Regions from separate parts of the Homo sapiens genome. Here regions 2 and 3 are each linked to region 1. The links come from fine-mapping of genetic effects on gene expression. A gene starts in region 1. Each other region holds a variant in brackets. All regions are shown on one strand. Distances are between the middles of the regions.

Region 1 (8,177 bases):
CCTGCCCAGCCTCACTTTTCAGTTTTAACAGTTTCTTTGCAAGTAATAACAGACCAGACACACAGCTACCAAAAATCGGTGGTAAGTAATGGTTAGTCCCTAGACTGGATTCTAGAGCCAGATCAGAAACAGGTTTGATGAATCCTAGCACCATCACAGTGAGGGTGGGCAAGTGACTGGATCTCCATGCTTTGATTTCTCAAACAGAGATAGAGCCAGGCATAGAGGCTGGTGTCTGTAGTCCCAGGTACTCGGGAGTTTTTAGAGGTTGGAGGATTGCTTGAGCCCAGGAGTTTGAGGCCCCATTAGTCAAGCTATGATCATGCCACTGCACTCTAGCCTGGGCAACAGAGTGAGACCCCAACTCTTTAAAAAAAAAAAAAGAGGTAAAAATAGTGTGTACCTCATATATGGTATCTACCTCCTATGTGTTGTGATGATTAAATGAGCTAATTCACGTAGAAAATGCTCAGTAAATGTTACCTATTCTCTGCCTACTGTGTAGGAAATCTTCCTTTTATCTCTACCATGCCTCAGATATCTCTATTTGCTCCCTAACACCTTAAGGATATTTTATCATAACACAGTTAACTCATTGTTTATATTATCTGATATATCTGATATTAACTGATATTATATTATTGTTTATCATTCCCTCCCACTACACTCAAACATTGTCTGTTCATACATATTTGTTAAGTTACAACAGGGATCAAGGGAGACACAGTATATACCCCAAATAACTGAAAACAGGTACTCAAATACAAATATATATTCATAGCAGCACTACTTGGAATAGCCAAGAAGTAGAAGTAGCCCTACTGCGCATCAACAGATAAATGGATAGGGCCAGGCATGGTGGTTCATGCCTATAATCCTAGCACTCTGGGAGGCCAAGGCAGGAGGATCACTTGAGCTAAGGAGTTTGAAATCAGCCTGGGCAACACAGCGAGATGCTGTCATAAACAAATAAATACAAAGACAAACAGATGAACACATTGTGTTATATACATACAATGGAATATTATTCAGCCATAAGAAGAAAGGAAGTACTGATACATGCTACAAAATGGATGAACCTCAAAAACATTATGCTAAGTGAAGGAAGCCATGCCCAACACCCACCTATTATGATTCCATTTATATGAAGTATCCAGAATAGATAAATCTAGAGACAGAACCCAGATTGGTGGGTGCCAGAAGTTGGGAAGAGGAAGAAATGAGGAGCAACTTCTAATGAGGATGGAGTTTTCTTTTGGGGTCATTATTTTGGACCCCAAAATTTTGGACCTAGGTAGAGGAGGTGTTGCACAACATTGTGAATGTAATATATACCACTGAATTGTGCAATTTCAAACAGTTAATTTTATTACGTAAATCTCACTTCAATTTAAAAAAATAGCCAGGTGTGGTGTATACCTACTCAGCTATTCAGGAACTATCACTTGAGCCCAGGGGTTTGAGGCCAGCCTGGGCAACCTAGCAAATCACTGTCTTAAAAAAATACAAATTTTAAAATAAAAAGATAAATTGAGAGAGAAAAAGATCCTGCCTTCGTAGAGTTTATATTTTAGTGGGTGAGCCACATCAGACAGTAAATCAGCACACACTTAAGTAATGATGTACTGTGATAATCACTTGGTGGGAAGTAGGGTGTGAGAGAACAGAGAGGCTCTGAGATGGGAAGGGGATGGGTAGTTTGAAAAACTGCAAGGAGACCATCTGGGCCAATGCTTGGAGAGCCAAAGGCAGTGATTTAAAATGAACCCAAGGAGGTAAGCAGGGACCAGGTCCTGCAGAGCCTTAAATGTCACAGGAGGGAGTGTGACATTCAATCTAAGAGCAATGGGGAGCTGGGGAGGGTTTTAAACAAGGGATTGACAGGAACTGAGTTATATTTAACCGTTTGATCTGCTTTATTATTATTGAGACAGTGTCTTACTCTGTCACCCAGGCTGGAGTGCAGTGGCACGATCTCTGCTCACTGCAACCACTGCCTCTTGGGTTCAAGCAATTCTCGTGCCTCAGCCTCCTGAGTAGCTGGGATTACAGGTGTGCACCACCACGCCCAGCTAATTTTTATATTTTTAGTAGAGACATGGTTTCACCATCTTGGCCAGACTGGTCTCGAACTCCTGACTTCAAGTGATCCACTCACCTTGGCCTCCCAAAGTGCTGGGATTACAGGTGTGAGCCACTCCACCCAGCTGATCTGCTTTTAAATGCACTTATTAGCTTGCCCCTTTTCTAGGGTAGAAAAAATCTTGTGTTTTCTGATGCGACCCACTGGGTCGCATCAGAATTACCTAGGAAGCTTATTTTTCAAATACAATACTGAGAGCCATTGGATTGGAGGGGTGGCTGGCGGAGGTATTTTGGAGTAGCTTCCCAGAGGACTCTGATTCTCCACTGCCCCTATCACTTTGAGAATTACTGTTGTTCTAGAAGCTTAAAAGGATTGAAATGGATATTAGCTGCCTTATCATGAACTCTTAACCCACTTTACAGGGATGGGAGGGGCCATGATTCAGTGACTTTAACAATTCCAGTGGCCAGTCCCCAGACTGACAGGTTATCGACTCTTGGGGCAATAGAGTGGGATCTCTAAGTTCAGGAGGTAAGAAAACAGCAGCAGCGGTGTTTATCACTAGAGGCATGAGGAGAACTAATTTCTAAAAAGCACTGGAGAACTATACTGTAAAAAAGATCTGGGGTGCTATGATGCAAGGAAGGAAGTATTACTTGGTTGGGGCTGGAAAAATAAAGCAATTATAGTAAAAAAACTAAAAAAAAAAAAAAGTCTAGATCCCGGCTTCTTGACAGTGTGGTCTGAGAAGCAACAGCATCGCTGGCAGCTTGTTACAAATGCAGAGTCCTGGGCCCTGCCACAATCTGCATTTTTAATAAGAGCCTCGAGTGTTTTTTATGTGCTCATTAAAGTTTAAGCAGCACTGGTCCATATCACGGCGAGGAGATCCAGACCATCAGAGGGTAGGCTCCCTGGCACAGCTGACGCATTTTTGAATACTTTGATACAGCACAGTGTACCTGAAAAGATACTGCATTTTTGAAAATTAAGTGCTATAAATACTGGAGAAAGACCTCTTTTTTTAAACTGCGGGGAGGTTTCTCATAAGCCAAATTTCTTTTGACTAGAAGCATTTTCTGGGGAGTAAAGTACCAGGCTTCCTTAAAGTGAGGCGGAGCCACGTTAAAAATGTGCGGTAGAACTCAGCCTTGGCCAAGTCGACCGTTCACCAGCTGGGTCAAGTCTGGAGCCTCCTAGGTCCCTTGGCAGTTCCGAGCTACCAGCATGAGCTTTTACAGGAAGTTGAGTTGGCTGCTGTTCTGCCCCACAGAGCAGCTGAGTCTTTTTTTTTTTTTTTTTTTTTTTTGATGAGTTTCACTCTTGCCGCCCAGGCTGGAGTGCAGTGGGGCGATCTCGGCTCATTGCAACCTCTGCCTCCAAGGTTCAAGCGATTCTCCTGCCTCAGCCTGCCGAGTAGCTTGGATTACAGGCGCCCGTCACCACACTCGGCTAATTTTTGTATTTTTAGTAGAGACGGGGTTTTCACCATGTTGGCCAGGCTGGTCTCGAACTTCTGACCTCAGGGGATCCGCCCGCCTCAGCCTCCCAAAGCGCTGGGATTACAGGCGTGAGCCACAGCTACCGACTCTGAGTTGAGTCTTTAACGCCGAAGATGCAGAAAGGAGACTTGACAAAACTATTTTCGGGGAGTGTGGCCGCGGAATTCGGTGAGGGTGCTATACCGGGAGAGAGTAGTAGCAACGGCTCATTCACTGTGAAGCCCCTAAGTGACCTTAGACCTCTGACCCCGCGCCTCACTCGGCGCTTCCGCGCGCAGCTTCCGCTCCCGCCCCTCCGACGAAAGGCTGGGCCAAAGGTGGGGGGGTGGGGCTCTGAGGTCGGCAGTTAGGGGCGGTGCCCGCTGGGGGCGGGTCTCGCGAGGGGCAGGATTCGAGGAGGCACTCGAGCATTGGGCACCAGGTAGAGGCGGGGCCTAGTGCTGGGCTGGGTTGGGCGGGGCAGGGAGTTCGTAGCCGCCTCTGGGTAACTCGACTCGGGCGGCCAAACCTCCGGAGGCCGGGGACGGAAGGCGGGCCCGCAGCAGATCCTGGATCCGGAATCTCCCGGGCAGGAGCGGAATCTGTCCCGAACCGGGTCTGTGAGGAACTCGCGAACTTGGATTAGGAAATCCCGGAGCCCGGATCGACAAATCCCGGAACCCGGAATTAAGATCGCCAAGTCCCGGATCGCGGAGCACAGAGCACGGAGTGGACTCGACGCGGAGCCCGGAGTCCGGATCGCGGCACCGCGGGACGGGACGGAGCGATGTCGGGCCGAGGCGCGGGCGGGTTCCCGCTGCCCCCGCTAAGCCCTGGCGGCGGCGCCGTGGCTGCGGCCCTGGGAGCGCCGCCTCCCCCCGCGGGACCCGGCATGCTGCCCGGACCGGCGCTCCGGGGACCGGGTCCGGCAGGAGGCGTGGGGGGCCCCGGGGCCGCCGCCTTCCGCCCCATGGGCCCCGCGGGCCCCGCGGCGCAGTACCAGGTGAGCAAGGAGGACGCGAGCGGACGGGGGCGAGAGGCGCTGCGAGGGCGCCCGGGCCGGCGGCTGAAGGGGCCTCGAGTGAGGGCCCTGGGGAATGCATGAGGAACTCCGGGAGACGGTGGAGGGCGGGCCGGGACCCTCGGGCTGCGGCGGGTCGCGGTGGAGAAGTGGGAAGGGGAAGCAGGTTCTGCAGCGGAGGGCTGGAAGCAGCTGGGAGGCCTGGGGGCTTCCGCGGCACAGGGATTCCGAGTGACTGGGAGATGGAGGAGTTTGGGGAGCCAGTGAATTGTGGCGGGTGGGTTGAGAAGTCTAGGGTAGGAGGGCTGGAAAGTGATGAGAAAGTTTGGGAAAGGGCCCTCGCTGAGAAACCGGGGTTACCCTGCATCGGCCTTGGTCCCAGTCCAAGTCTGCCCTGTTTTTTCTGATTGGGAACTGGCGGAGCTCTAGCGTGTCTGAGATGGCTCCCGGCTGCTAATAAGGAGGAAGGAGCCTGGCTTCCCACGGGCACGGGACGCTGAGGCTAGGGCCAGGGGATTCCAGCTTGTGCACGGGCGGACTTTACTCCTGAGGCAGGGCCAGGCGCCTTCGCTGGGAGGACTCCAGCTTAGACCAGAGACGGTGGTGGCCTGGCCTGAGGGGAGGCCCAGCCCAGTCACAGGCCGGCTCTCTTCTGGGCTTTCTGCCTCCTGTCATCGTGTCCGGGAGTTGATTAGTCTGGACGTGCAGAGTGGAGCCCTGCTGGTCTGGGGCCGGAGGAGTCTGCGAGAGTTGCTTCAAAGAGTGCTGTCCTGACCCCTTTGGGGTTTTGAGAGCTGCTCAGATTGCAGCTTCAAAAGCCCTTGCAAAGCAGCGACTTCTGCTCAGTGTGTGAGGACCTCAGCCTGACCCTGCCAGTGCTCTAGTCTGCTGTTCAGGTTGCCCCAGAGGGCTTGGAAACTGTGCCCATCTGCCTTGTCACCCTCTCTGCATTTTTATTTGGCCTTCAGGTTCTAACTCCACCACGTCCGAAGCCATGTGCCCAAGCATTTGACACTGGCTTCTTGCTCATCTACGGGTTTGCTGTGGGCTTCCTCTGTTTTCGACTCATGTCTCCAGGCAGAGGTCCTTAGGGATCCTCGTGGAGTATACACAGCCTACCTGCCCCACTGGGCCCTCACTTCTAAGGAGATGGCTTAACTAGGGACAGTGACTGGATTTTTTTTTCCTTCTTACTCCTCATTCTTCCTCCTTTCTCAAGAGAAAAGAGAGTCTGGGTATGGGCAGAGACAGACCTGGTCCCAGGGATTCCAGCTGGGGCTCATCTCTCCCACCTTGCTGTCCCCGTTGGGGATTCATGGGCCCAGGGTGTTGCTGAGGGCTCCCTGCATCATTCATTGTAGCCCTTGGGCCTGCCCACTGAGACCTGGCCTGGGCACCATCTGTGGGCCTTTGGCCTTGGAAGGACCTGGAACAGACAAGCCGCTCCAGTTTCCTTGGCATGCAAGCCATAGGAAATGTGCCCTTGGGACAGCCCCTGAGAGGATGGATTCCACATGTTTTGGTGGGGGGTGGCCTTGGGCCTGTGGCAAGGCCAAGCTGGCTGGCTGGTTAGGCCTGGGCTGCTAGCTGTGCGGAAGTAGGAGATGGCCCTGAGTCTGGGTTTCCCATCCCACTAGCTTTCCTCCTCCTGGCAGGAGAGGTAGATGGGAAGGAGAACCCAGCCAGCTAACTTTGGCTGAGTTTGAAGAGGATCCTATTTGCCTTCTTTCCAAGTCCAGTTGTATGACTGCCAGGAGAAGGGACTTGAGATCTGGGAAACAAAGGGGTTCCTGTCTGTTAGGGCTCATGAGATGCACTTGAAAAGTGAGAATTTGAGGCCCAAGCTGAGCAAATAGTTGAAAGAAGGGAAGTGATGACCTCCCTTCCTCCAGAGGGTGGTTCTAGCTGTGGATCACAGTTAACAGAGGAACCTAAAAAAAGAAAAAGAAAAGAAAAAAACCTCCAGGGCAGGATATGGTGGGCTCACACCTGTAATCCTAGCACTTTGGGAGGCCCAGACAGAAGGATTACTTGAGACCAGGAGTTCAAGACCAGCCTAAGCAACATAGTGAGACCATCATCTCTTAAAAAAAAAAAAAAAAATTTAGCCAAGCATGGTGGTGTGCGCTTATGGTCCCAGCTACTCAGGATGCTGTGGCAGGAGGATTGCTTGAGTCCAGGAGTTCAAGGCTGCATTGAGCTATGATCCTGCCACTGCACTCCAGCCTGGGCAACAAAATAACAAAAACCTCAGATTGCTGGGTTCACTCCAGAGAGTTCAAAAAGTTCAAAAAAAAAATTTTTTTTTTTCTGATACGGAGTCTCACTCTGTCGCCCAGGCTGGAGTGCAGTGACATGATCTCAGCTCACTGCAACCTCCGCCTCCCAGGTTCAAACAATCCTCTGCCTCAAGCCTCCTGAGTAGCTGGGATTACAGGCGCCCACCACCACGCCCGGCTAATTTTTTTGTATTTTTAGTAGAGACGAGGTTTCACCATCTTGGCCAGGATGGTCTCGAACTCCTGACCTTGTGATCCACCCGCCTCGGCCTCCCAAAGTGCTGGGATTATAGGCGTGAGCCACTGCACCCGGCCTCAAAATCCTTTTTACTCATGGGAGAGTGGGTGGTATGTTCCCCAACTGAGGCCCTCAGGCCCAGGTTCCAGGAGCATCAGGGCCACATTTGGGGCAGGGCAAAGCACGCTCACCGGAGCCCTGGATTCCTCATCTGGGGTTCAGGGGATTGATCCAGGCCTACCTGGTCCTGCTGCAGGCAGGGAGTTAGGGAGGCTCAGAGTGCTGGACTGCTTTTTTTTTTTTCTTTAACTCCTGAGTTGTTTTTTTTTGTTTGTTTTGTTTTGTTTTGTTTTTTGAAGTGGGAGGAGTTGCTAGCGCCTATAAGCCCTATGGAGCTTGGCAAGGCTCAGCTGGGACTTGAACTATAAGCAGCCTTCCCCTGGGGCCCTGAGTGAGCCAGGGGCTCTGGGCCCAGGAAACCTGGAGCAGATGTCTGGGTGGAGCCTATTCCAGACCCTGCCTATGAGGCCTTGTCTTGGGACTTCCTGTTACCGGAGCACCTGCCCAGGAGGGATGGGTGGTGCTGCAGGTTTTGTGAACACTGCAGCAGGGAGCTTCCTGGGGACCACAGGGCCCTCGCTCACCTCTGCAGGACCCACTGCTTCAGTTCTTCCCTGTCTTTGTCTCAGGCACTAGGAAAAACTAGTCTGGGATGTCTGGGCCTGGGCTTACAGCTGTAGCCACACTTAGTTTTTTTCTATAATCTCAGGCCAGAGAAAGAACAATCTTTAAGGCAGAGAAAGAGGCTGTCTTTTGCCTTTCAACAGCTCTGATTAATCTCTTCCTGATGCAGAGAGACTTTGGCAGGACTCCCAAAGCCCCAGAGCCCCCCACTTTGAACTTTTTATTCTCCCAAACACTTCCGTCCCACCCTGCTCCTCCTCTCCCCATCCTCACGTCTGTGGGTCATGTTTCTTTCCATCTCCGCATCTGGTCAAGAATCTGACCCTCTGTGTTGGGAACATGGGTTTAGTGCGGGATGAAGAGGTTGGGGAAGAATCTCATCTCCATG
Region 2 (8,177 bases), 26 kb after region 1:
TGCCCACCTCAGCCTCCCAAAGTGCAGGGATTACAGGCGTGAGCCACCGTGCCCAGTCTGGTAATTTCTTTAGAAAGCCTGGAATGTTGGATATTAGACAGATGTCCTTTCCACTCAGGTACACATTTAATGAGGATGAGGGGGAGCTTCCGGAGTGGTTTGTGCAAGAGGAAAAGCAGCACCGGATACGACAGTTGCCTGTTGGTAAGAAGGAGGTGGAGCATTACCGGAAACGCTGGCGGGAAATCAATGCACGTCCCATCAAGAAGGTGGCTGAGGCTAAGGCTAGAAAGAAAAGGAGGGTAAGTGATGGGGCCTCCAGAGATTGGGTGGGGTGGGGGTGGGGGGATGGGGAAGAGGTCACCTGACAGGTTCCTTTGCAGATGCTGAAGAGGCTGGAGCAGACCAGGAAGAAGGCAGAAGCCGTGGTGAACACAGTGGACATCTCAGAACGAGAGAAAGTGGCACAGCTGCGAAGGTAATGGGAGGACACCACAAAGGTACACAGGGCTAAAAGTGCAGCAGAAAGCAAGCCTCTAACCTCTTCTCTTCCCCCCTGTAGTCTCTACAAGAAGGCTGGGCTTGGCAAGGAGAAACGCCATGTCACCTACGTTGTAGCCAAAAAAGGTGTGGGCCGCAAAGTGCGCCGGCCAGCTGGAGTCAGAGGTCATTTCAAGGTGGTGGACTCAAGGATGAAGAAGGACCAAAGAGCACAGCAACGTAAGGAACAAAAGAAAAAACACAAACGGAAGTAAGCAGAGCTGCCAGGCTCCCAGGAGAGCATGGGGACTAGGAGGAAGGGTGTGGCATGGCTCAGTCTGGCCCCCTTGATTACCGGCCTAGCCCCTGCTCACATCACAGCTGTCTGAAGAACAGTGAGGTGGAGTGCCTAGAACTCCCGTGGTGGTCCTGAGCAGAGAGGAGGATGTCCTCCTGCCTGCCTGAAGGTCTCCCATGAAAACACTGCTGAACTGTGTTGACACTCATGACCCTTTTTTTAAACCGTTAAAGGGAAGTTCGGTGTTGGAGCGATACTCAATGTAGTCAGTCTACACCTGGACGTGTGGGCCACTTAAGCCCTCCCCACCCCCATCCTATTCCTGAATAAAACCAGGATAATGGAAGAGTTGTCTTTTCTGACAGTTTTAATAAGCACTTCCCTATCTGTCCCTACACTGTGTGCGGCACTATTCTTAATATGTACCAATTCATAGACAGAAATGACAAACGATCCACAGGTCCCGGTAGTAAAACATTTACTAGAGAGCAAGCAGAAAGGAATGCACATCTTAAAGAAACCTTCACAAAGTCACAAAAGTCAAAGTTTGTATATTTCTTTTCCTTTTTATAAACGATAAACAAAAATCATCAAAATCATTTCAGCAAAAGACTTTTCTATCATTGGGGCAAGTTAAAAAAAATACAATGAGATAGAAGACACTTTAAAAGCTGTTGTTGGGTTTCTTGTTTAATTTTAAATTTAGCAATACCATCTCAAACCTGGAGCAATCCTGGAACAGTTACCAGGATCACCTTTTCCCTTCAATCCTTGTGGCTTCTGGGAATCTTCAGAGCCTGGGTCTGAAAGGTGTTTCCTACATGTCTCAGGGCTGGATGCAAACCTGGCTGGGGACCTGAGCATCAACTCCCATTTAGAATCAGACATCTCCCTTCCCTGCAAATGTCTACAACTACCAAATTGCTCCCCAACAGTTAGCTCAATGGATTGAATTTGCAGAAGCCAACTCCTAAAATGGGGACTGCCTGGCCATACAACTAAGAAAAAGAAGTCAATTTATAGATGCTTATAAGGTGACACCTTAGTAAAAAATATAAGCTACATACAATATAAACCTAGAGTGAGTTTTGTGCCCTAGAAGACCCTTTATCCCAAGATAACCTCAACTTACCCACATGACAACTCACCTAGAGCCAAAAGAAGCTTCCCAGCTCTCACTGCTTCCAAGGACCAAAACAGCTTCCCAAGAAAACATCCGAAAATTCCTTCTGATGAAGGGGTAATGTCTCCAAGCTCCAGCTCTCCACTAAGGGCAGGGGGTCCTTACACTTTGGACCCCAACCCAGCCCTGAGACACCTAGTTACCAAAATCTTTCTAAAAATTAAGGACAACTGATTTCACGCTTTAGCACATCCCCTCTAACTGTCCCATCGACTTTTCTTGCGTTTAGGCGGCTCTGGGACAGCAAAGCCGTCAGCTGTCTTATCTGTCTTGCTGTCCACCTTGTCCATCTTGCTGCTGTCCACTTTGGGTTCCATCTTGGGCTCCATCTTGCTCTCACGATTAAAAGCTTCTTTCCTGCTTTCCCCATTCCGACCATCATTTGCACCCCGGTTCTCCCCATGCCGGCCTGCGCTTCCTCCATGTCTGTTCTCCCCGTGCCGATGGCCATCAGTATGACGGCTGCTGCTTTCTGGATGGCGGTATCCATCTCCATGGCGACCACCATCTCCGTGACGTGGACTATCGCTATGCCGATTGCCAGTCTCTCCGTGACTGTGACGGCTGCTGCCCCGGTTCTCAGTATATCTCTCTCTTTTCCCGTTGCTGCCCCCAGTCCCTTCTCGGCTGTTATTCCCTGAAGCTGTGTTGTTGACTCCTTGGGCTCCGGCAGACGGGTAGGTCACAGGGGCACCACTGATGTTGCCAGTATTGCCAAAGCCTGGGATGCCCTTGGCGGCACTGGTGACGGGGCTGTCAGGACTGTTATGGCCCTGTTGTGCTGAGTTAGTTGGAACAGAATTCAAGCTCCCTGCACTAGTCCACCCACTTGCCCCAGCAGCAGAACTTCCAGCCTTCTGATTACTTAAACTGGCTGCAACAAAGTGACTCTTGTACTGTGACTGAAAGAGAAAGAGACATCAGGAGTAGGTAAGATAGCAAGTTCAAGAAACTTGAATATACAACTTGGCAAATGATGAGGTTTACAGAAACTCTGTGCTATCCTGGCACTGTGAGTTTAGTGTCCTGATGGCCCCACAGTATGGTCCCTTTTGTTCTTGTGCTATAAAGGAAAACTTGTGGATCTCTGTGGAGAGATGGACCCCCAGTGTTCTGAAATGTACTTTTATAGCCTGATTGGCTAGAATAAAGCATCTATGTATTTAGCACATTTATCTGCATTCAAAACCAAAAAGTTCTGAAAACTTAAAAAAAATTTTCATACTGCAATTTAAGTTTGACAGCAAAACCTGCCTTGAACTCATTCTATCGATTCACCTTAGTGTGACTATCAGTAAATTTTGCTTCAGAAGTGAGTTGGAGGTGGGTGCCTGGGAGGTGGGCAACACTTCAGGCTGTTGGGAAGGGAGGGAACACACACCCTGCTGCAGGACAACAATCCCAGGCCCCAAGTGTGACTCAAAGTAGACCAGCACAAGGGGTTCTCTAGATCAACTTGCATTTCCAACTAAGCTACTGTTAGGTTTATATTCAAAATCCAAGCAGCGTGAAGACCCTAAATCTAGCATCAAGCCTAGGCGCCCAGCTACAACCAGGAAAACTAAGCCCCTCTGTCACTGCCCAAGAGTTACTGCTGAAAGTGCTTTTAATGAAATGCTTATTTCAGACCTGGAAAGCTGCTTTCATTGCCGTTAGTCGATCTCCCATAGCTCCTGTGGAAGGCTTGTAGGCCTCATAATTGCTCATTACATTGTTATTTCCTCGATCCTAAAAAAATAAACACATCTATGAGAATGAAAAAATAAGCAGGAAAGCTCACTGCTATAGACTAGGCCTCATTATGAAAACCCTTGAAGTGGGAGCTACAAAGGAACTGGATACTTTTAGAAAGCTGCTACTGCTTTGTGAGAAAAGACACAGTGACAATCATTTAAAAATGCTTATGCCCTCAACCCAGAAATTCTATTTCTGGAAATTAACCCTATTAAACAGAAATGCAATCAGATTATGCCCAAAGTTGATCATGTATTTACATAAACACTTCCAATTAATTAAGTAAAAATTACGTTAAAGATGAAAAGGCCCTGAATAGCATATTGTGTGACTGCTCAGGCCCTGAATCAAGACCATGAAGGGTCTGAATTTCGGCTTGAACACTTGTCACTGTAACCTTAGGTGCCTCAGCATTGTTATCTGTACTAACTTCCATTCAGTTATTTTGAAGATTAACTGAGCCAAAACATCTGATTGCTTGGAATGGTCCTGGCACATATAAAGTGCTCAATAAATATTACCTATTATTATGCATCATCATCATTATTATTATAATGTGGGAACAGAGTATGTAATTACAAAGATGCCAAGTTTAATGCTCCAGAAAAGTATACTGGCAGCTTTCTTCCCTGGCTTGGAATCAAGGTGACAGAAAACAGGCAGTTAAGAAAGGCCACCAAAAGGGTACATTTGTTACCTGGTTTGTGAGAAAAACTAGCTCCCGACTTGGAAATTCCTGATCCGTTCCTGAGTTTAATGACAAGATATGGCTAGACTTTACAGTGACCCTTTGGCAACATTTACCTAGCAGCAGGCTTTAGGC[C/T]AGTGTTGAAGGGCTTATAAAACCAGACTGCTGGGCCCCAACTCCAGAGTTTCTGATTCACAAGGTCTGGGGTTGGGGATGAGTTTGCATGTGCTGCTGGTCCAGGGACCACAGTGTGAGATCACTGCTAATCTAGAATAATTTCCTGAGCAAGCCTAGTCAACCAAGTACACAAAGATGCTTCTTCAATAGAAAGTTACCATAAGAATGAGCACTGCATTGACTCAAATCAGATTAAATACAAATTCCCTTCTAGACAGGGCTTTAAACTCACTGAGGCTTTCCTGGGTAGATGAGAATATTCCTAATGACTTTCAGGACATGAGACCAACTATAAAGGCACTACTGTAGTAGTCTAGACTCACCATGTTCTCAGAGCCCAGGCCAGGCCGCTCCCTGTAGCCTAGGCCTCCTCCACCAATGTTCAGCTTTTTTCCTTTCCCTCCTTTGAATCGAGATTTCCGAAACCAGGCATTCTGCATTGAACAAAATTCAAGGTTAAGTCAAGGGAGGGAGAAAAGAACAGAAGAAGAGAACGAGGACAAAGAGGAAATTAAGTGGGAAGGGGGAACTTTTGCTTAATTTTCAGCCAGCACTACGCTAAGGGAGGAATTTTCACAGGAACCACAGATTGGTTTCTCTTTGGTAGCATAATCCACCAAATTTGAAAAGTGGCTGAGATCCTTATCTAAGGCTTCCTACAGTGCTCCCTCCCTCAAGGCTCTCCTGGAAGGGAAGTTGTTCAGGTAAGCTTCAAACCCAGAGGAGTAACTTTGGCTACTTCTAACTTCCTTGAGGAAAATGAGCTTATATTTTATTTCTCAAACCATGTATTATTGGACGTAAACATTTGGAACTTAAACAACTGGTATGTTCAGAAGCAAAGGAAAAATGCTATGTGAAGTGAGGCTTATCAGAACTGACTATAGGGACAGACTCCCAGAAAGGATGGTAGCCACACAACTGAAAATTTTATTTACCCGCAGAGCGTAAAAGTTTTCATTGAACTTGACCATTGCCACTCAACATATTTACTCACATTCTCTTAAGAATGCAGGGCGGTGGCTCACGCCTATGAATCCCAGCACTCTGGAGGCCGAGGTGGGCGGATCACTTGAGGCCAGGAGTCAAGACCAGCCTGACCAACATGGTGAAACCCCGTCCCTACTAAAAATACAAAAATTAGCCAGGCATGGTGGCACATGCCTCTAATCCCAGCTGCTTGGGAGGCTGAGGCAGGAGAACTGTTTGAACCGGAGACGCAGAGGTTGCAGTGAGCTGAGACTGCGCCACTGCACTCCAGCCTGGGTGATAGAGTGTGACTCCATCTCAGAAAAAAGAAAAAAAAAAAAAAAAAAAAAAAGCAAATGTCTCTGGGAAGGTTAAAGTTTTATCTGACAATCACATATTACCAGCAAAATAAAGTGCTTGAGAGGTAGGGCAGCAGGCTTGGACAAAGTCCTGAGCACAGAAAGCCTGAGGTACAAAAAGAAATGGAAGAAAATGCCAAAGTCAAAATGTGTCCTGTTTTAAAAGTTTATTTAGGACTAGCTCTCTGTGCTCAGGAGCAGGGGAGGAAACATTATTCTCTTCTCTCCTGCAGTGCAGGTCCTTTACTCCTAGGACCAGAAACTTGGGCACTGCCACATTGCAGCTGGGTTGTACCAGTTGTGTGAGCTGGCCTAGGCATTTGACAAACTCTTAACAGTTTCTGCTCTCAGAAAGTGTTCCGAACCCATTTGTAATTTGGGGACAGCATGGATTCAGATGACTCCAGGTTTGATTTGTTAGAATGCCTCACTTAGCTTTAGATTGGAGCACACCTGGAAGAGGGCAATCAGTGTGGTCAGAGGTCTGAGATCTCTGCAAGGAACAGTTAAGAGGCACCATACAGGCTGGGCACGGTGGCTCACGCCTGTAATCCTAGCACTTTGGGAGGTTGAGGCCGAGGCGGGCGGATCACCTGAGGTCAGGAGTTCGAGACCAGCCCGACCAACATGGCAAAACCCCATCTCTACTAAAATTACAAAAATTGGCCAGGCGTGGTGGTGGGCGCCTGTAATCACAACTGCTTGGGAGGCTAAGGCAGGAGAATTGCTTGAACCCAGGAGGCAGAGGTTGCAGTGAGCCGAGATCGTGCCATTGCACTGCAGCCTGGGCGATAGAGTGAGATTCTGTCTCAAAAAAAAAAGGTGGGGGGGCACTATACTATACACATATTGTTTTAAAGGCATCACACATTTTTAGCCTCCCAGAAGAAAAATTTTGTGGGGGAAGAGCAGTAAGGAGAATAGTAACCATCTTTGAGATTAAATTTACTCCTAAGTGTGCTATGGGGTAGAAATTACAGCGACAGATTTTAGCACAAAGGAATAGCTTTTCAAAACAGATGCTGTTGAAAGAAGAAGACCAGATAAGACTAGATGAATTTTAGTATCTCACAATTCCTATCTGTACCTCATAAGCCCCACATCCTCCTAGCCACCCAACTTTCTTGTCAAGTTTTTATGTTATCTGTTCCAGGACTGCTAAAATGTCTTGGTCTTATAACCAGGAGCAATTGAAAGTGTGCCCAGCCCCTCACCTGCATTGCCAGATCTAGGAGTTCCTTAGAAACGTGTTGATTGGCTCCTTCCAAGTTCCGGACCAGGTCACCAGCAAAATTGCTGTCCTTGGGAGTGAGTAGGGTATAGGCCACACCTTTCTCACCCGCTCTTCCTGTGCGGCCAATCCTATGCGTGTGGGTATCAATGTCTCGTGCCACATCATAGTTAATGACAGTCTTAATTGAAGGAATGTCCAGACCACGGGCTGAAATAAAAAGCAACCAAATTCTTTTATTCTTCATCTGTAGTCAGAAGATCAAAGTAACCAGAAATGCTAGTGCTAATAAGCCACATTTCCTTTATCTAGGCAAAGCGCATGGGTTTGGTGAGCTGAGATACAGGCATGTTAAGTCACCACCACAGATTCTATGATGTTAGGCCTTCTAGTGTAAGGGACTTTTATTTTTTAGAGACGGAGTCTTGCTCTGTTGCCAGACGGGAGTGCAGTGCCATGATCTCGGCTCACTGCAACCTCCGACTCCCTGGTTCAAGCAATTCTCCTGCCTCAGCTTTCCAAGTAGCTGGGATTATAGGCACGCGCCACCACACCCAGCTAATTTTTGTATTTTTAGTAGAGACGGGGTTTCACTATGTTGGCCAGGATGGTCTCGATCTCCTGACCTCAGGTGATCCGCCCGCCTCCACCTCCCAAAATGCTGGGATTACAGGTGTGAGCCACCGTGCCCGACTGGGACTTTTATCTTTTGCATCAGTAATCTGCCATGCCCTCTTCTCTTGCACTGGGAATATATATTTAAAATGTGTCATGAAGCTGAGAAGTTCTCTCCTTTCTAGGAAAAAATATCAGTGTTTAAGGGTAGTTATTAAAACTTGACAGAACAAATCCAGAAATTATATTCCAAAAACTGTTCTCATCCTGAGTTAAGTTGCCCAACTAAGCTGTGTATAGTAGATCAATGTAAGGGTAAGGTATCTACTATATTCAGACATACAATAAGGGCATTCACTGCCTTTTTTCCCAGAGTGACTTCTAGCTGCAGGGATTCTTTGATTAGAGAGAAATACTAAGTGAAAAGTGGTATCTAGAGCTCC
Region 3 (8,177 bases), 58 kb before region 1:
CCCAGCACTTTGGGAGGCCGAGGTGGGCAGATCACCTGAGGTCAGGAGTTTGAGACCAGCCTGGCCAACATGACGAAATCCTGTTTCTACTAATAACACAAAAATTAGCCAGGTGTGGTGGTGCACACCTGTAATCCCAGCTACTCCAGAGGCTGAGGTAGGAAAATTGCTTGAAGCCAGGAGGCAGAAGTTGCAGTGAGCCGAGGTCGTGCCACTGCATTCCAGCCTGGGAGACAGAGCGAGACTCCGTCTCCAAAAAAAAAAAAAGAATCAATGAGAAAGGCCTGCCTGATCTCTGGTTGTGTGGATCCTTCGGGAAGGAAAGTGAACAGAGGTTCCAAGTCTACAAGGGAAAAAGCCCAGCCTACTCTGAAGAGCTTTGCGGGACGGCTCATCCAAACTACTGAGCTCTAAGAACTGGAAAGCTGGAAACCCCAGCAAGAGGACACCTGCAGAGCTGGACCAGGCCCCGAAGAAGCAGATCATCCTCCCTCAGAGATCTACAGCAGGTGGGAACCCAGATCTGCAGACCCGCTTGGTTTGAGGGTACTGTGTGGGACCATCTGTCAACACTGACACCCTGTAGCAGTGAGAAGCAAAGGCAGCAGCCGGCTGAGCCTCCAGGCTCGCCCTGCTGGAACTAGAAAGTCCAAGTGGCCCCCTTCTTCCTCCCTTTTTGGTTTTGTTTGCTTTTGTTTTTGTTTTGTTCAAGATGGGGTCTCGCTTTGTTGCCCAGGCTGGAATGCAATGGCACGATCTCGGATCACTGCAACTTCTGCCTCCCACAGTCAAGCGATTCTCCTGCCTCAGCCTCCCCAGTAGCTGGGATTACAGGTGCACACCACCATGCCTGGCTCATTTTCCCCTTCCTTGTTGGATTCGCTGTGCTTCAAGGCACTGAGGCCATGAGGCAGGGTTTGCAGATACAGGATATCTACAGCCCTGATGCGACTGATCCTGACACCAAAATGGCTGTGGATCCCTGCATGGTGTGGCTGTATACTCCTGTCTCTTAAACCTGCTTCTTAACTTACTTCCCCAAATGCTCAATTCAGGGAAGGTGGATGATTTATATTAGACTCACATGATGAAGGAGCAGTAGCTCCACCTAGTGGAAACATTGAGGTTGAAAAGGTCATGTTCGGGGATGATGCTATTTTATAAAGTCAAGATATTTCGTGTCCCTCCAGGAAGCCTTCCTTGATTCGAGTTATGCTTTCTCTTAACAATCTGTTTTCCCAGTCATAGGAGTTCATGCACAAATGTAATCTCCTACTTGTTTGTCTTGCTTTCCTAATAAATTTGTGGAAGCCAGGAACAATGTTTTGTTCACCACTGTATCCCCACTGCCTTGTATGTGGTGAAACCAAAGGGTTACTTTTACACTTAATCTATAGCACCAGACTCAGGGGAGGTCTGGGAAGAATGGGAAAACGTTTTCCCTCTGCTGTCTGATGCCATGGTTTTTTCTAGCTGGTATCTGCAATTTGGAAAGCTATGGACCTCTCTCTATCTGGAAGTCTGAACTTTAGCTTTTCTTTTTGCTTGTGTTTCCTTTGTTTTGCTTTTGAGACAGGGTCTGGCTATGTCACCCAGGCTGGAGTGCAGTGCATGATCTCAACTCGCTGCAACCCTCCACCTCCCGCGCCCAAGTGATCCTCCCACCTCAGACTCTCAAGTAGCTGGGACTACAGGCACGTGCCACTATACCTGGCTAAGTTTTGTGTTTTTTGTAGAAATGGGGTTTGCCATGTTGCCCAGGCTATTCGCAAACTCTGGGGCTCAAGTGATTCGCCCGCCTCAGCCTCCCAAAGTGCTGGGATTACACGCTGAGCCACCGCCCCGGCCTGAATTTCAGTTTTGAAAGCAGTTTACATAGGCTGCCACCCTGAGCTAATGCACCCCCTGCCCCGGGCTGGTTGTTTATGCTATCAACACGGTATTTTTTCCTTAGAAATTGTACTTAAAGTTATAAAATGCAGCCGGGAGCGGTGGCTCATACCTGTAATCCCAGCACTTTAGAAGGCCGAAGTGGGTGGATCACGAGATCAGGACTTCAAGACCAGCCTGGCCAAGATGGTGAAACCCTGTCTCTACTAAAAATACAAAAAATTAGCTGGGCATGGTGATGGGCACCTGTAATCCCAGCTACTTGGGAGGCTGAGGCAGAGAAATCCTTGAACCCAGGAGGTAGAGGTGGAAGTGAGCCAAAATCACGCCATTGCACTCCAGCCTGGGCAATAGAGCGAGACTGCATCTGAAAAAAAAAAAAAGTGATAAAATGCAACCATTTGACATAACAAGAGCTTTCAGCAATGACACAGAAGGGAAGGGAACTGCATTTGGACATCATAAAACCACTTTTATTTTTACCATAGCAACATTCCAGTGAACATTTCTTGACTGACTTGGGAGAAAAGATCTGGTTTTGTGATTCCTCACGCCTTCTCCGAGGGTGAATATACTCTTTCCGAAGGACAGGGAAGGAGGCTGAACCATAAAATCATATGAACATTTTCACAAGAGGATTCCTCTTGAAGCTTCAAGGAAATTGTTTACAGTCAGAAAAAAATATGCACTTCTTGATGAAAACAGAGAGTAAACATTGCAACTCTAACCTAGACACCTATATGGGTAAAAAAAAGAAAACTGGCAAATGCGAACTCACAGTTGATCACTCTATGAAAAGGAATTCAGAGATGTTTGGAGCTCTTAACCTAAGAGGCCAATTTCATGGAAGAACTCTACCTTCTACTTCAGAGACAGAACACTGGGCTAGATACGATGCTTGTCTGGCCCGAAGTGGAATTTCTTACCATCTGTATACTCCCCCAAGACCCACAACAGATGGTTACTGAGTTGCAGCTTGCCACTGATCCTTAATGATGTCAACAAGCTCAGCTCTGGGAGCTGGCACTCCAGAAGCCCAGGTCAGGGGAGCAAGGGAAAGTGGAGATGGGAACAGAGCTCTGATTCCTGGCCCCATATTTGATACTTACTCCCTTCAAAGTCCTGTCCATGGACTACAAATTTAGCTCCCAGTTAGTAATCAAAAACCCATGAAATATGAGTTGTATTTCTAAGATATGCCTGACTGTAGTATGATGTTTAAGAGAAAAGGGCAGTGAGAACCATGAAGAAACGGCAAGATCTTTTCTTTTTTTTTTTGGATCTAAGAGTGGACTGATGAAGCACCTGGCAAGGAGCAAGAGGCCTTCTTACAAATCAAACATTGAGACTGAGATTCCTAATGACTAGGGTGAGCTCTAAAGAGAAAGGTGGCTGGGTGCAGTGGCTCACACCTGTAATCCCAGCATTTTGGGGGGCCAAGGTGGGCGGATCACTTGAGGTCAGGAGTTTGAGAACAGCC[T/C]AGCCAACATGGTGAAACCCCATCTCTACGAAAAATACAAAAATTAGACAGGCATGGTGGTATGCACCTGTAATCTCAGCTACTGGGGAGGCTGAGGCAGGAGAATCACCTGAACCCAGGAGGCTGAAGTTGCAGTGAGCCGAGATCGCATCATTGCACTCCAGCCTAGGCGACAACAGTGAGACTCCATCTCAAAAAAAAAAAGAGAGAGAGAGAGAATGGTGAGATTGTGGACATATTGGACACACAGGACATGGGGCATGGGGGCCTGAAACACCGTTTTACAGGACAGATGTACACAAATAGGAATGCAGCCTGCCATTGTGTTTCTTCCTTTCTCCTCTATCCCTTCTCCCATCCCTGGGAAACCACAGTAGCAGAACTCTCATTCAATCAAATAGCTGTCAATTATATGAGTTGCACTTTTCTCTTCCTGAACAGCAAACTGGCTTTCCTCCTCTTTGTCCTCCTCTTTCTGCCTGTAGAGCAATTTCTTCCTGTCTACTTTGCAGGGCCGATAGCTCAAATACAGTGCTATGGTGATGACACCCACTCCAAGGGCAACGGTAATAATGACAAAGAGGGTAGAGCTGATTCCTTCATCCAGTCCTGCCCAAGCACAGAAGATAGAGTTAGGAAAGTCTGAGAGTACAAAGATCACCCACCCCAGCCCACCAGGCCCACTTCTGAGTCTCATTCTTCCCAACCTAGTAGAATCTTTCTTATTTTCATGCTTGGATAAGAATCCCAAACCCCTGAGGGGTTTCCATCCTGGGCCTGGCAGCAGGGCAGCAAAGGTTACCTTGAACAATGACAGCAATGTCTTTGCTGACAGAGCCCAGCTGGTTAGTGGCTGTGCAGCAGTAGGTTCCAGTGTGGTTCTAGGTTGCCTTCTGTGGCACTTCAAGGTCAAAGACCACCCCATTCCAGGTACACACCAAGGCTGGAGCTGGGTTTCCCTTTGGGACGCAGGCGAGCGTGTGTTCCATCCCTTCCAGCCAGGTCTGTTTGGCAGAGCAACTGGATTCCTCTAACCATGGCTTGTCTGCAAAAACAGTTTCCCAAAGAGCTGAGTTCAGTGCACCACACTCCCTCCCTACCTTCACCCCCTGCTCCCTCTCCTCCCCTCACCCAAATGCTGTCCCCTTCACCCAACAGCTTTCCTTCCCAAGGGAGCACTAGCAGCTCCCTGCTTTGAGCCAACTCTTCTTTCCCACTTTCCGTATGGGCAGGGAGTCCCAGATGAAACCTAGGGTGTTCTTATGGATTTGGACTAAAATATAATGCTGCTCTGTCCATGGTGGCCCTGGGGCCCCTGCTTCCCATGTTTGTTTCTCGGTGGGTAAGGAGCTAGGTAACAGTGAACTCAGAGATGAGGATTTTTCTACTTTTCTTTTTGGTTTTTTCGTTGTTTTGTTTGTTTCTTTCTTTGTTTGTTTGCTTGTTTTTGAGACAAAGTCAGTCTCACTTCTTCGCCCTGGCTGGAGTGCAGTAGTGTGATCTCGGCTCATGACAACCTCTGCCTCCCGGGTTCAAGCAATTCTCGTGCCTCAGCCGCTCCAGTAACTAGGATTATCGGCAAATGCCACCACCCCCGCTAATTTTTCTATTTTTAGTAGAGATCAGTTTCACCATGTTGGCCACGCTGGTCTCAAACTCCTGACTTCAGGTGATCCACATGTCTCAGCCTCCCAAAGTGTTGGGATTACAGGCATGAGCCACCACGCCGGCCTATCCTGAGCCTTTTGAAGCTGACGCCAGAGGTGCAAAGCGCAGCCTCTCCCCACTGGCCACATAGAGGCTCTTGTTGGGTAGTCTCTCAGCCTGCAGCAGCCAGGGATCTGGCCTCAAGTGATGCCCCAACAGTGAGCGACTTCCCAGTACTGTCAGGGGAATCCCAAGTCTAATTCAAAGTTGATTTTTTACCAGCAATGAATGATAGACATGGTCTCCATTGCTCAAGGCTCTGGGAAGATCTAGACTAGAGAAAATGATCATTGACTTCTACCCACACCTGTGGGCCTCAGTTCTTCCCTCTGGTCCATGGTTGGCATGGTAACCCCTTACAAAGGTGTTTCCCCAGGGGTTCCTAGAGTCCTCTGAGTCACCATAATTCTGCGGTCAACAGAAATGGAGAGGTGAGAGGAGACACTCCCCTGCCCTGGCAGGTCCCACATGTTCCTGGCAGTAACCTGCATGGGGAGCCTCGCCACCCGTGTGCCCACCTGCGGAGTTATGTAGTGGTCCCCAACTAGGGCCCCTGCCACCCTCTTTCCTAAGGGAGGCTGCAGACTTCTTCCATGGCCAAAAATCCACATCTAAGTCCCCAGCACTGGCTAAAAGACCCTGTCATGGGGGCTCCCTGTCCCAGCTGACATTGGAGGAAGGATGGTGGGGGAGGCAGGGACCCTCTTCTACTTGGAGCTCAGGGACCCTCTTCCATTCCCACCTGGCTCCTCCTCTTTGCTGGTGCTGGAAGGAGCAGGGGAAAGTGGTGACTCCACCCTCCCTTGACCCCATATTTCTCAGAGCTGGTATCATCGATGACACCCCTCTTGGATCCTCCTACAGGCCTGCCTGGAGAACAGCTCACAGCACAGTGCCCTCCCAGCAGATGATGAGTCTGGGGTGCTAGTCCAGTAATGCTTCAGGAATGACGGCAGAAAAAGGAGCTCTGTTTTCTGCTCTGAAAGTGGGGAGATGGCAGGGCCCCAGCATTCACATCCTAGGCCACAGGGGTGTGGGTGTTCAATGTTGGTTGCCAACACCACTGCCAACCACTTCTGGAAGCGTTTGCCTGTTTGTTTGCTTGTGTTTCTACAGAGTCAAGTGCTAGATGCTCTTAAACTCGGGGGGAAGATTTCACCACTAGAGAGGGTGCTCTTTCCTGCTGCCATCTCTGGGGGCATCTGATGCTTGTGACCTCCAGATTATATTGAAATAGCCCCAACTCTGGGCACCAGGAGACAGGAGGCTCAGTCCTGGCCTTCTCTGCCTTCACCTTTTCCTGCTGTGAGGTTTCCACAAGGCACCCCATGCCACTGGGCCATTCTCACCTGAGAATTGAGAAAGAACAATCTGCCCCTTATGGAAAGACAAAATCAGGCAAAGGGCCCCTTGTGTTGGGGGCAGGATCCCTGCACTCAGAGGGATATAGAAGCTGAAATAACTGGGTTGGGAGCGGTGGCTCATGCCAGTAATCTCAGTACTTTGGGAGGCCAGGGAGGGTGGATCACCTAAAGTCAAGAGCTCGAGACCAGCCTGGCCAACATAGTGAAACCCCGTCTCTATTTAAAAAGTACAAAACTTAGCCCGGCATAGTGGCGGGCGCCTGTAATCCCAGCTACTAGGGAGGCTGAGGCGGGAGAATCACTGGAACCCAGGAGGTGGAGGTTGCTGTGAGGCAACATCATGCCACTGCACTCCAGCCTCAGAGACAGAATGAGACTCCATCAAAAACAAGAAAGAAAGAAAGACAAAGAGAGAAAGAAAGAAAGAAAGAAAGAAAGAGAGAGAGAGAGAGAGAGAGAGAGAGAGAAAGAAAGAAAGAAAGAAAGAAAGAAAGAAAGAAAGAAAGAAAGAAAGAAAGAAAGAAGGAAAGAAAGAAAGGAAACTAAAATAACTAAATAACTGAGTAGCACCACACCACCTGCTCTGGAGAAAGGACTTTTGTTGTTGTTGTTGTTGTTGTTGTCGTTGTTGTGGTTGTTGAAATGGAGTCTCACTCTGGCGCCCAGGCTGGAGTGCCATGGCCCAATCTTGGCTCACGGCAACCTCTGAGTCCTGGGTTCAAGCGATTCTACCTCCTCACCCTCCGGAGTAACTGGGATTGCAGGCTTCTGCCACCACACACAGCTACTTTTGTATTTTTAAGAGATGGAGTTTTGCCATGTTGGCTAGTCTGGCCTTGAACTCCTGACCTCAAGTGATCCACCCACCTCAGTCTTCCAAAGTGCTGGGATTACAGGCATGAGCCACCATGCCCGGCCTGGAGAAAGGACTTTAAATGACGCAATGTGGGAAGAGCCAGGTTGTGGAGATCTGCTGCCCTGGCTGAGGTAGCTCATGCAATCAGTCTCTCTGAGCCTCAGTCTCCTGATCTGTGAAATGGGATGATACTCATACCTCCTACACAAGACAAGTTGCAGGTCAGACGTGAGAATGCACAGGCAGGCCTTTGACAACTGGATAAGCTCTACACAGGTCTGGAAAGGAGGAAGAGACAAAAGAGGACGGGCTTCCATGGCTGGATAGGGCCTCTTTCGGCGTGATGTGTTCTGAGTTTTAAAGCTGGGGAAGAGACTCAAATCTTCAAGAGCTCTTCCAACTTTGAGATTCTCTGTTGGTTTCAGGACTATGGGAGGAAGCGCTTGTGGTCCGTGTCTGTTCCCGGGATTTCTGTTTCTTGGTTTGTATCTCTGCTTCAGGTCCAAGGAGCTGGGGCAATACCTTGAGTCTGGGTTATTCATCCCCAGGGACCTGGGGGAGCCCCACCGCCTCCGCCCCAAGGTTCAGGGAAAGGGGAGAGCAATGTGTGGGGTTGGTTCTCTCTAGTGGTCAGTGTTAGCACTGCATCCAGCTGACTCAGGTGGGCCCAGGAGTCATCAGCAAAAGTGGAATTCAGGACTCAATGGTGCTCAGAACCCCCACAATCTATTGGCTGTGCTTGGCCCCTTTTCCCAACACACACATTCTGTCTGGTGGGTGGAAGTTAAACACGCGGGGAGGAGGAAAGGAATAGGATAGAGAGTGGAATGGGGTCGGTAGGGGTCTCAAGGACTGGCTATCCTGACAGCCTTCCCCGCGT

Alleles and levels. Alleles are on the strand shown, and positions count from the first base shown. SD is a standard deviation of normalised expression in the study named. Not every link is listed here.
With allele T in place of C in region 3, the expression in cerebral cortex of the gene that starts at base 4,344 in region 1 is higher (small effect, 0.38 SD a copy in GTEx).

What was found. PIP is the estimated chance that this variant, and not a neighbour inherited with it, causes the effect.
Region 2: its variant is fine-mapped to the expression of SMARCD2 in whole blood (INTERVAL, PIP 0.97).
Region 3: its variant is fine-mapped to the expression of SMARCD2 in cerebral cortex (GTEx, PIP 0.98).

What each region holds. Positions count from the first base shown.
Region 1 is chr17:63,838,852-63,847,028 of GRCh38, reverse strand. SMARCD2 (SWI/SNF related BAF chromatin remodeling complex subunit D2) reads left to right here and starts at 4,344. Exons shown (of 13, transcript NM_001098426.2): 1 at 4,344-4,570. The coding sequence starts at 4,355. RefSeq lists a cis regulatory region at 2,353-2,742, silencers at 3,852-4,021, 4,392-4,621, 7,446-7,740 and enhancers at 5,342-5,421, 7,446-7,740.
Region 2 is chr17:63,812,380-63,820,556 of GRCh38, reverse strand. DDX42 (DEAD-box helicase 42) reads right to left here. Exons shown (of 18, transcript NM_203499.3): 15 at 7,103-7,329; 16 at 4,884-4,994; 17 at 3,591-3,689; 18 at 1,240-2,863. The coding sequence ends at 2,159. FTSJ3 (FtsJ RNA 2'-O-methyltransferase 3) reads left to right here. Exons shown (of 21, transcript NM_017647.4): 19 at 119-302; 20 at 384-478; 21 at 563-1,124. The coding sequence ends at 755. Among named protein-coding and RNA genes, the nearest start is that of PSMC5, 11 kb to the left of the region's middle. RefSeq lists an enhancer at 1-732. The variant C/T (reference allele first, on the strand shown) is at 4,519.
Region 3 is chr17:63,896,876-63,905,052 of GRCh38, reverse strand. No RefSeq gene overlaps it. Among named protein-coding and RNA genes, the nearest start is that of CSH1, 4.4 kb to the right of the region's middle. The variant T/C (reference allele first, on the strand shown) is at 3,371.